Homo sapiens: one gene and its partners. The protein of the gene in region 1 interacts with the protein of each later gene in a biochemical or structural test. Each region holds a gene or a part of one and is shown in the gene's direction. Other genes may lie near its edges.

Evidence for each region.
Region 2: of the proteins of PASK (region 1) and PDX1, one has a biochemical effect on the other in vitro, tested with the Homo sapiens proteins (one study listed by IntAct).
Region 3: of the proteins of PASK (region 1) and FXN, one has a biochemical effect on the other in vitro, tested with the Homo sapiens proteins (one study listed by IntAct).

The regions. Positions count from the first base shown.
Region 1 is NC_000002.12:241,108,536-241,111,623, reverse strand, and holds part of PASK (PAS domain-containing serine/threonine-protein kinase), read left to right. Parts: intron 1-2,725; coding exon of another isoform or gene 2,726-2,925; exon of another isoform or gene 2,926-3,088. UniProt on the Homo sapiens protein: Serine/threonine-protein kinase involved in energy homeostasis and protein translation. Phosphorylates EEF1A1, GYS1, PDX1 and RPS6.
Region 2 is NC_000013.11:27,922,915-27,926,879, forward strand, and holds the end of PDX1 (pancreas/duodenum homeobox protein 1), read left to right. Parts: intron 1-1,341; coding exon 1,342-1,787; 3' UTR 1,788-3,399; downstream 3,400-3,965. UniProt on the Homo sapiens protein: Activates insulin, somatostatin, glucokinase, islet amyloid polypeptide and glucose transporter type 2 gene transcription. Particularly involved in glucose-dependent regulation of insulin gene transcription.
Region 3 is NC_000009.12:69,038,704-69,042,354, forward strand, and holds part of FXN (frataxin, mitochondrial isoform 1 preproprotein), read left to right. Parts: intron 1-3,651.

The DNA.
Region 1 (3,088 bases):
CTCTCGGGGGACTTTAGAGAGGAAAGCAAAACGGAAAGGAAGATTGTGGTTCATTTGTAGGGCCTGAGTGGAGACTGTCTGCTGACGTGCCCGATCACTGTCTCATCTGCCTGTAAACCAAATGTGTCTATGTGTATGAAATAGACTTTATTAAGTCAGAAATAGATAGCAGGTGTTTTCCACTAACACCTACATGTATTTTAGAGAGGTGTGGTTGGAATGCATCTCTAGGTGAGTTCATGGTTAGAGAGTCGGATGATCACAGCACTGCTTGGACCCTCCTGGCCCTCTGCTGCAGTGCTCTGCTGCACCGCCCATATCTGCTCCATGTGGTTCTCTAGGAGGGAAGCTGATGCTGCCCCCACAGGAGAGGCACACGGGGTCCCTCACAGACCTGCTGCACCTGACCTGGTGGCCTGAGGCCAGGGCATTTGCTCGCAGTCACGCACGAGCTCCATGCCGTGCCTTGGGCTCTCGGGAGGGCCTCAGCATTGGGGAGAGGAGTGGCTGGGCTCTGGATCCTGGTGTCTGCTTAGGCCATATTTCATTAGGAGGTGCAGGTTCCAGGCTGCACACCCTGAGTCCTCAGAGCCCAGCAGCCTCAGCCTGCGCCAACCTCTCCATGCCAGGCAGCGTTGAGCTCTTCTGGGCCTGGATGCCCTGTGTGCAGAGTATGGAGGAAGTGAAAATGGGCTCTTCCCCGCTAGAACCTCCATGCATCTTCAGAGCCACCAAACAGCGTGAAATATCGAAGGGGGTTGGTCTAAGAAGGGCCGTGGAGTTTCCCTTCAGATCTAGTTTGGTTGCCCTAGAGCCTGGTGGGCGCTGGTGGGCTCTGCCTGCCCTGCAGTGGTTGTCGTGCCCTCCGTGCTGGAGGGAACTGCCTGTCCCCTGTCCACTGACCCATGATGCCTGCTGCATGGCTTGTCACCCCTTCCTGTACCCAGGCCGTGAAGCTTGGGGAGGGTGCAGGGGGGATCCAACCTGGGCGAGAGCTCAGTGCTGCTTGGCCACCTTGGCCCTGCCTCCCAGAGCTGTGGCTCCCACCCTCTCCCTGAGCGCCTGCCCTGCCAGGGCTCTGCCCTGCCTCCTGGCCTCTCCTTTCTGGCTGTGAGCGGTGTACTGCTCCTGGGCCTGCGGGGCTGCAGGCCTCCTCTCAGGAGCTCCTTCCTCCCTCCTGCGTCCTCTCCCCATCTCCCTGGATGAAAGGGTTTCTGAGTTCTTATTCTCAATCCCATCCTCAGGGCCCTGGCTTCTGTCTTGTCATCTTCATCTCCGTCTACTCCAGGGTCGGCAGACTGTGGCCTTAGGTCCCTCTTCCCCTTCCTCAGGCCCTGGCAGCTGCCATTCTGCTATTTTCTCTATGAATCTGACTACTCTAGGGACCTCCTATACGTGGAATCGTACAGCATTTGCCTTTTGGTGACTGGCTTATTTCACTTTGCATAAAGTCCTCAAGGTCCATCCATGTTGTGGCCTGTGCCAGCATCTTCCTTTTCAAGGCTGAATTTGATTGCGTTTTCTGGATATGCTGTACTTATTCATCTGTCAGTGGACATTTGTGTTGCTTCTACCTTTTGCTTCCATCTTTATGTTGTTCGTGATGCTGCTACAAACGTGTGTGCAAACATCCCCTGCCTCTTGTTTCTATAAATAAAGTTTTATTGGAATGGAGCTGTGCTCATTTGCTTATGTGTCGTCTGTAGCTGCCTTTGTCCTACATGACAGAGTTGAGTTGCAGTGGGGACCATGTGGCCCAAAACCTGAAATATTTACTATTTGACCCTTCACAGGAAAAGTTTGCCAACCTCTGTTCTGTTCTATTGGATATTTCTCTTCAGCTTCTAAACATCTTGAAATCTCTCTAAAAAACAGAAACAACACAAAAACAAAAACTGCTGAAACTGATTTTCTTGCTCTAGCCCCTACAGCTCTCATCCGTCCGCTCAGCTTCCCTGCGGTCTGTGCTAGCCACCCCACCACCCTGCTGACTCAGCCTGGGGGCCCGACTTTCACCCACGCTGCTGCTCTGGCCTCTGTGATCTGCCCTCTTGAGCCCTCCCCTCCCCTCCCCTCCCCTCCCTCCCAGCCCCTCTTCTCCGAGTCCAGCCCGGGGCTCTGTCCGTGCCACTCTTCTCACTGCTGTGGTTTCTCTTGGCTCCCTTGTCTAATTCTGGTTCTGAGAACAGGCTGCTGCTTCCCAGACCTCTTCTGGGGACAGACCCCCAGCTGCGGACCTGGAGACGCATGGCCTTGGCCAGTGCAGGGGCAGGGCTGTGGGTGCTGGTGACCTGGCTCTGGTGCGTGCTTGGCAGCAACTTCACCTCACCAAGCCTTGCTCTTCTGTGCAAAATGAAAGTCATATTTATCTTGCTAGGTTGTTGTGAGGATTTGGGTTAAGCCATGTAAAATGCTGGTACAGCATTGGCATCTCTAGGTACCCAATAGATGGTAGCATGGATGAGGATGTTTACGGTGACAGGAAATAAATGGTAGCATGGATGAGGATGTTTACGGTGACAGGAAATAAATGGTAGCGTGGATGAGGATGTTTACGGCGACAGGAAATAAATGGTAGCGTGGATGAGGATGTTTACGGTGACAGGAAATAAATGGTAGCGTGGATGAGGATGTTTACGGTGACAGGAAATAAATGGTAGCGTGGATGAGGATGTTTACGGCGACAGGAAGTAACAATAGTCCTTTGGGTGTCTTCTCCCTGAAGCTTGCTCCTCCATTTGGCCCACTGTGTGAACACCCACCTTCACCACGTCCTTCTTGTTTGCTTTCATCCTTCGGTGTTTTTCCCTGTTCAGTCTCGTCCTGCAGCACCCTTCACATCGTCGCCACAGCCATCTTCCTAAAGGGCATGTGTGTCCATGGTCACACCAAGCCCGTTCACACCAAGATCGTGAACATGCCTGATCACGTCTGAAGGGCACGTGACCCTGTTCTGAAGTGGCCTGCAGCTCCCGTGGCCCTCAGCAAAGCCAATGGACGTGTACTCTGCTTCCTCCAGGAAGCCCTCCCCCCGCTCCCCCCTCTGGTAGACACGTCTTGTGGTTGGTGTCCACAAGGAAGTTCCTGA
Region 2 (3,965 bases), on another chromosome or scaffold:
CCAGGGAGTAGAACTCTCCCTGGACTAGGGTTTGAGCCTCTGCTTCAGCTTCTGGCGCCTCTTCTCGACCTGGGGGGAAACCCAGTAGGGTTCCATCGCGAAATTAAACCCGCCCCCAACACACACACACTCGCCTTTCAATTCCTTAAGGCTTAGCCAACATTCACAGGAGAAATGTCCCCTGCCTTTGCTCTAAGACAAGCCTCTCCCCGGAACTTTGGTGGAACTTCCCGCGCCAGCGTCCACAGCCTGGGTGCAGTCAGTATTTTCCACAGAAAAGAAAAGATTGGGACCTGGCTGAGCGCAGCGGCAAACAGTGAATGTGGGTCTCCAACCTCCTGGGCCAGGGCGTCCTGTTGCCTCTTGGAGACACGAGAGGCTTGTTTCTGCACCACTACCACCTCCTCCGTAGGGCTGTCGGTTCTGCAGCTGGGCTAGGGCCCCTGTGTCTCCCCTCAACACCTCTGAGGGCATTTGGGATCCAGGGCGTAGAGTCTGGAGCTGCCAGAGTTCTGCCCTGGCCAACGTGACCCCCAGAACAATATTCCTTCACTTCGCGGGCAGAAGTCCGGCTGAAGTTAAAACAATTATGGAGAATTTGCTGGCTCTCAGGTTGGGACTAATTACGATATAACTATAGAGAGAGGAAACACATGGTCAGATATAACAAAATGTGTCACAGTCTCCATTAGCACAAAGATTTTCAAACTGCAGGTTGCACCCATTCGCAGGTCATAAAATCAATTTACTAGGTTGAGATTAGTATTTTTTAAACGAAATAGCAGATAATGGAGAGAAAAGTAGATAGCATCATACGTGGTAAACGTTTGTTTTATGTCCTTAAGATTTGTCAGTATAACTGACCTGCAGTGTCCGTGTGTGAACTACACAACGATCCGAAATGTATTTCTCACATTTGTGGGTCACCATCAGGAGGTTTTTTTTAGCCCTGGATTAAAGGCGTTTTATTGCCTTTGTAGGATCCAGCCGGTTTAACTATTATATACATTTAAATCAACATCAATCAGTTGATTAACACCGATTATATGAGCGCATTCAAGGACCACTCATTGGCAGAGCCAAGCTTAGGCTCACGGCGAGAGCTGACTCGAGTTTGGTCTCCAATAAAAAGGCTATCTTTATTAGGAAGGGCTTGAGTTACTAGGGAAGAGCTTCGCGCGCCTACACTAGGCGCTGAAATGGGATGCTGGGGCTTGGTGGCTCCGGCGGGAGCAGCTGGTAGGGCTAGGGCTCCCTGGCCCCCCTTGAAGGGGTTGGGCTGCGTGGGTGGGGGCTGTGCGGGGCTCCGGGGGCCACACTCACGCCCTGTGTCGCCCGCAGGCGGCGCCTACGCTGCGGAGCCGGAGGAGAACAAGCGGACGCGCACGGCCTACACGCGCGCACAGCTGCTAGAGCTGGAGAAGGAGTTCCTATTCAACAAGTACATCTCACGGCCGCGCCGGGTGGAGCTGGCTGTCATGTTGAACTTGACCGAGAGACACATCAAGATCTGGTTCCAAAACCGCCGCATGAAGTGGAAAAAGGAGGAGGACAAGAAGCGCGGCGGCGGGACAGCTGTCGGGGGTGGCGGGGTCGCGGAGCCTGAGCAGGACTGCGCCGTGACCTCCGGCGAGGAGCTTCTGGCGCTGCCGCCGCCGCCGCCCCCCGGAGGTGCTGTGCCGCCCGCTGCCCCCGTTGCCGCCCGAGAGGGCCGCCTGCCGCCTGGCCTTAGCGCGTCGCCACAGCCCTCCAGCGTCGCGCCTCGGCGGCCGCAGGAACCACGATGAGAGGCAGGAGCTGCTCCTGGCTGAGGGGCTTCAACCACTCGCCGAGGAGGAGCAGAGGGCCTAGGAGGACCCCGGGCGTGGACCACCCGCCCTGGCAGTTGAATGGGGCGGCAATTGCGGGGCCCACCTTAGACCGAAGGGGAAAACCCGCTCTCTCAGGCGCATGTGCCAGTTGGGGCCCCGCGGGTAGATGCCGGCAGGCCTTCCGGAAGAAAAAGAGCCATTGGTTTTTGTAGTATTGGGGCCCTCTTTTAGTGATACTGGATTGGCGTTGTTTGTGGCTGTTGCGCACATCCCTGCCCTCCTACAGCACTCCACCTTGGGACCTGTTTAGAGAAGCCGGCTCTTCAAAGACAATGGAAACTGTACCATACACATTGGAAGGCTCCCTAACACACACAGCGGGGAAGCTGGGCCGAGTACCTTAATCTGCCATAAAGCCATTCTTACTCGGGCGACCCCTTTAAGTTTAGAAATAATTGAAAGGAAATGTTTGAGTTTTCAAAGATCCCGTGAAATTGATGCCAGTGGAATACAGTGAGTCCTCCTCTTCCTCCTCCTCCTCTTCCCCCTCCCCTTCCTCCTCCTCCTCTTCTTTTCCCTCCTCTTCCTCTTCCTCCTGCTCTCCTTTCCTCCCCCTCCTCTTTTCCCTCCTCTTCCTCTTCCTCCTGCTCTCCTTTCCTCCCCCTCCTCTTTCTCCTCCTCCTCCTCTTCTTCCCCCTCCTCTCCCTCCTCCTCTTCTTCCCCCTCCTCTCCCTCCTCCTCTTCTTCTCCCTCCTCTTCCTCTTCCTCCTCTTCCACGTGCTCTCCTTTCCTCCCCCTCCTCTTGCTCCCCTTCTTCCCCGTCCTCTTCCTCCTCCTCCTCTTCTTCTCCCTCCTCTTCCTCCTCCTCTTTCTTCCTGACCTCTTTCTTTCTCCTCCTCCTCCTTCTACCTCCCCTTCTCATCCCTCCTCTTCCTCTTCTCTAGCTGCACACTTCACTACTGCACATCTTATAACTTGCACCCCTTTCTTCTGAGGAAGAGAACATCTTGCAAGGCAGGGCGAGCAGCGGCAGGGCTGGCTTAGGAGCAGTGCAAGAGTCCCTGTGCTCCAGTTCCACACTGCTGGCAGGGAAGGCAAGGGGGGACGGGCCTGGATCTGGGGGTGAGGGAGAAAGATGGACCCCTGGGTGACCACTAAACCAAAGATATTCGGAACTTTCTATTTAGGATGTGGACGTAATTCCTGTTCCGAGGTAGAGGCTGTGCTGAAGACAAGCACAGTGGCCTGGTGCGCCTTGGAAACCAACAACTATTCACGAGCCAGTATGACCTTCACATCTTTAGAAATTATGAAAACGTATGTGATTGGAGGGTTTGGAAAACCAGTTATCTTATTTAACATTTTAAAAATTACCTAACAGTTATTTACAAACAGGTCTGTGCATCCCAGGTCTGTCTTCTTTTCAAGGTCTGGGCCTTGTGCTCGGGTTATGTTTGTGGGAAATGCTTAATAAATACTGATAATATGGGAAGAGATGAAAACTGATTCTCCTCACTTTGTTTCAAACCTTTCTGGCAGTGGGATGATTCGAATTCACTTTTAAAATTAAATTAGCGTGTTTTGTTTTGTTTTGTTTTTGTTTTTGTTTGAGAGGGTCTCATTCTGTCGTTCCTGGGTTCCTCTTTTTTTCAGGGATTCTCCTACCTCAGCCTCCTGAGTAGCTGGGATTACAGGCTTACACCACCACGCCCGGCTAATTTTTGTATTTTTAGTAGAGACAGGGTTTCGCCATGATGGCCAGGCTGATCAGGGTCTATTTTTTTCGGTACTAATCAGGAAAAATCAGGTAATTAAGAAATAGTGCACTTGAGTTTTGAGTTGGAGCACCCTGTGAGGGGATGAATATCCAGTTTTGTTTTATTTTTAATTTAAGAATATCTTCTCATGATGACTTTCTCGGGTAATATAGTCTAGAGCGTGGGAGACAGCTCGGAGTACTGCTGGCCAATACTGCTTCCTGGCAGAGCCAAGCGCCGCCCACCTGACGCCTCAGTGCTGCGGGTGGTGAGACCCGTCGCTGGCTCCCACCATGGTCAGGTCTCCTCTTTCCTCCCAAAGCTGAGGACGCAGGCGAGGCCGTTTTCTGTGACCCTTCCAAAAGAAGCGTTGTTTTGGATGAGTCTCTGTCCCCGG
Region 3 (3,651 bases), on another chromosome or scaffold:
GCTACTCGGGAGGCTGAGGCATGAGAATCACTTGAGCCCAGGAGGCAGAGGTTGCAGTGAGCCAAGATTTTGGGGGATTCTGTGACATACAAAAAAAATCAGTAATAAGATATCTTGCATACTCTTTTCGTACTCATATACTTCCAGCATATCTCAATTCACAATTTCTAAGTAAATGCTCTATCTGTATTTACTTTTATAAAATTCACAATTAAAAATGAAGGTTCACATAGTCAAGTTGTTCCAAACACACTTAAATGTCTCCTAGGCTGGGTGTGGTTGCTCACACCTGTAATCCCAGCACTTTGGGAGGCTGAGATGGGCGGATCACCTGAGGTCAGGAGTTTGAGACCAGCCTGGCCAACATGGTGAAACCCCGTCTCTACTAAAAATACAAAAATTAGCTGGATGTGGTGGCACTCACCTGTAATCCCAGCTACTCAGGAGGCTGAGGCAGGATAATTGCTTGAACCCGGGAGGTGGTGGAGGTTGCAGTGAGCCGAGATCGCACCACTGCCTTCCAACCTGGGCGACAGAGCGAGACTCCGTCTCAAAAAAAAAAAAAAGGCTCCTAATAACTTTATTACTTTATTATCACCTCAAATAATTAAAATTAAATGAAGTTGAAAATCCAGGTCCTCAGTCCCATTAGCCACATTTCTAGTGCTCAGTAGCCACGGGGGCTGGTGACCACCACATGGGACAGCATATTTAGTACCTGATCATTGGTTCTCAGATCTGGCTACTCAGCAGAACCAAGAATCCACAGAAACGGCTTTTAAAAGCACAGCCCCACAGCCCCCAGCCCCAGCCTTACCTACCTGGAGGCTGGGAAGGACTCTGATTCCACGAGGCAGCCTATGTTTTTTGATGGAGGGATGTGACAGGGGCTGCATCTTTAACGTTTCCTCTTAAATACTGGAGACAGCTTCGAGGAGGAGATAACTGGATGTGTCTTAGTCCATTTGATGGAGGGATGTGACGGGGCTGCGTCTTTAACGTTTCCTCTTAAATACCGGAGACAGCTTCGAGAAGGAGATAACTGGATGTTTCTTAGTCCATTTTCTGTTGCTTGTGACAGAATACCTGAAACTGGGCAATTTATATGGTAAAAAATTTTCTTCTTACTGCTCTGGAGGCTGAGAAGTCCAAAGTCAAGTCCCTTCTTGCTGGTGGGGACTTTGCAGAGTATTGAGGCGGCACCGGGCGTCATATGGTAAGGGGCTGAGTGTGCTACCTCAGGTGTCTTTTTCTTTTCTTATAAAGCCTAACTAGTTTCACTCCCATGATAACCCATTAATCTATGAATGGATTAATCCATTATTGAGGGAAGAACCTTCATGACCCAGTCACCGCTTAAAGGCCCCACCTCTCAATACTGCCACATCGGGAATTAAGTTTCAACATGAGTTTCGGAGGTGACAAACATTCAAACCATAGCATGCTGTCTCTTAAATGACTCAATAAGCTCCTGTGGCATCCACTTCTGCATGCCTTGGGCAGCTTTTAGACATCTGTCCATTTTCCTAGAGGGACAAGACCACCACCTGTGATCCTATGACCTTTTGGCTTTAGGCCTAACAAGCAGGTTATACCCTCACTCACTTTCAAATCATTTTTATTGTCTTGCAGACAATTTACACAAGTTTACACATAGAAAAGGATATGTAAATATTTATACGCTGCCGGGCGCGGTGGCTCACGCCTGTAATCCCAGCACTTTGGGAGGCCGAGGCAGGTGGATCACGAGTTCAGGAGATGGAGACCATCCTGGCTAATACGATGAAACCCCATCTCTACTAAAAATACAAAAAATTAGCCGGGCGTGGTGACGGGTGCCTGTAGTCCCCACTACTCGGGACGCTGAGGCAGGAGAATGGCGTGAACCCGGGAGGCAGAGCTTGCAGTGATCCGAGATCGTGCCACTGCACTCCAGCCTGGGTGACAGAGCGAGACTGCATCTCAAAGAAAAAAATAAATAAATAAATAAATATTTATACTGCTTATAAACTAATAATAAATGCTATGGTCTGCATGTTTGTGTCACCCCACCATTCATATGTTAAAACCTAATCACCAAAGTGATATTAGGAGGTGGGGCCCTTGGGAGGTGATGAGGTATGAGGGTGGAGCCCATATGATTGGGATTAGTGCCCTTCTAAAATAGCCCAACGGAGCCCAGTGACAAGGCATCATCTATGAACCAGGAAACTGGCCCTCACCAGACACCAAAGCTGTTGGTGCATTGATCTTGGATTTCCCACCCTCCAGGACTCTAAGAAACACATTTCTATTGTTTATAAGCCACCCAGTGGCTGGTATTTTGTTATAACATCCCAGACTAAGACAAATAACAAATACTTGTATCCCTGACACCAGGTTAAGAGATAGAATTTGTTTGTTCCTCTGGAGGCCCTTGTCTTCACCCCATCACTGCCCTGTCCTCCCTGGAGGAATCTGCCAGCCCGAATTCTGTTCATCGTACCCTCCTTTTCTTAGAGTTTGACCTCCTCTGTATCTCCCCCAATCCATGTATTGCTTATATACAAGGTATTCTGCTGTATCTGTTCTGCTATGGCTTGCCCCTTTTGTTCAACACTGTTTTTGTGCGTCATCTGCATTGATGCATGCAGTTGTCCTTTATTTGTTCTCACTGCTGGATAGTATCTGGTTGGGTAAATATATCACACTGTAAATCACACTATCCAGGTTCCTTTAGGTGACATTTGGTTGATTGCAGTGTTCTGTTGTTACGATGGTGCTGCTGTGACTGTTCTTGTGCATGGACAGAAGTTCCTTTCAGGTGAATTTCTCAGAATGGAATTGCTGGGCAAAGGGGCAGCCAATAATCAACTCATTTGATGCCAAAAGTGGTGGTGCCAGTTCATCCTCCCCTGCGAGGTATGGGTCCTGATTCACTCTTCAAGTGCTGTGGTTTGACAGGGCCGGGGGTGACAAGGGGACACCTGGGAAGGAAAGCTGGGCTCCCTGCTGGCCATCCAGGCCAGTCCTTACCAGGGGGTAGGCAATGATTGGGTCAAGTGGTTCCTGACCACTGGGCCTGAGACTTCAGGCCCAGAAACTATCTAATATTTCCTCAAATGCATCCCATGAGCAGGCACTGTGTGAGTGAGCACACACATCTGAAGCCTCAAGCTAGGCAAGCCTACCATGACTTGTGGTCCAAGGGCTCACGGGTGACCTGGAGTTAGAGGGAGACATGGCTGCCAGGTGGCTTTAGAAAGAACACTCATCATGGCCAGGTGCGGTGGCTTACGCCTGTAATCCCAGCACTTTGGGAGGCCAAGGTGGGTGGATCATGAGGTCAGGAGTGAGACCAGCCTGACCAACATGCTGAAACCTGTCTCTCCTAAAAACACAAAAATTAGCTGGGCATGGAGGTGCACGCCTGTAATCCCAGCTACTCAGGAGGCTGAGGCAGGAGAATCACTTGAACCCGGGAGGCGGAGGTTGCAATAAGCCTAGATTGTGCCACTGCATTCCAGCCTGGGCAACAGAGCAAGACTCCGTCTCAGAAAAAAAAAAAAAAAGGAAGAACACTCATCCTATGACCTTGACCTCCAAGCTTTGCCTCCCTCAAGCAGAACAGAATGGAGCCTCCCTTAGGCAGAGGCGGAAGTTTGCCTCTCA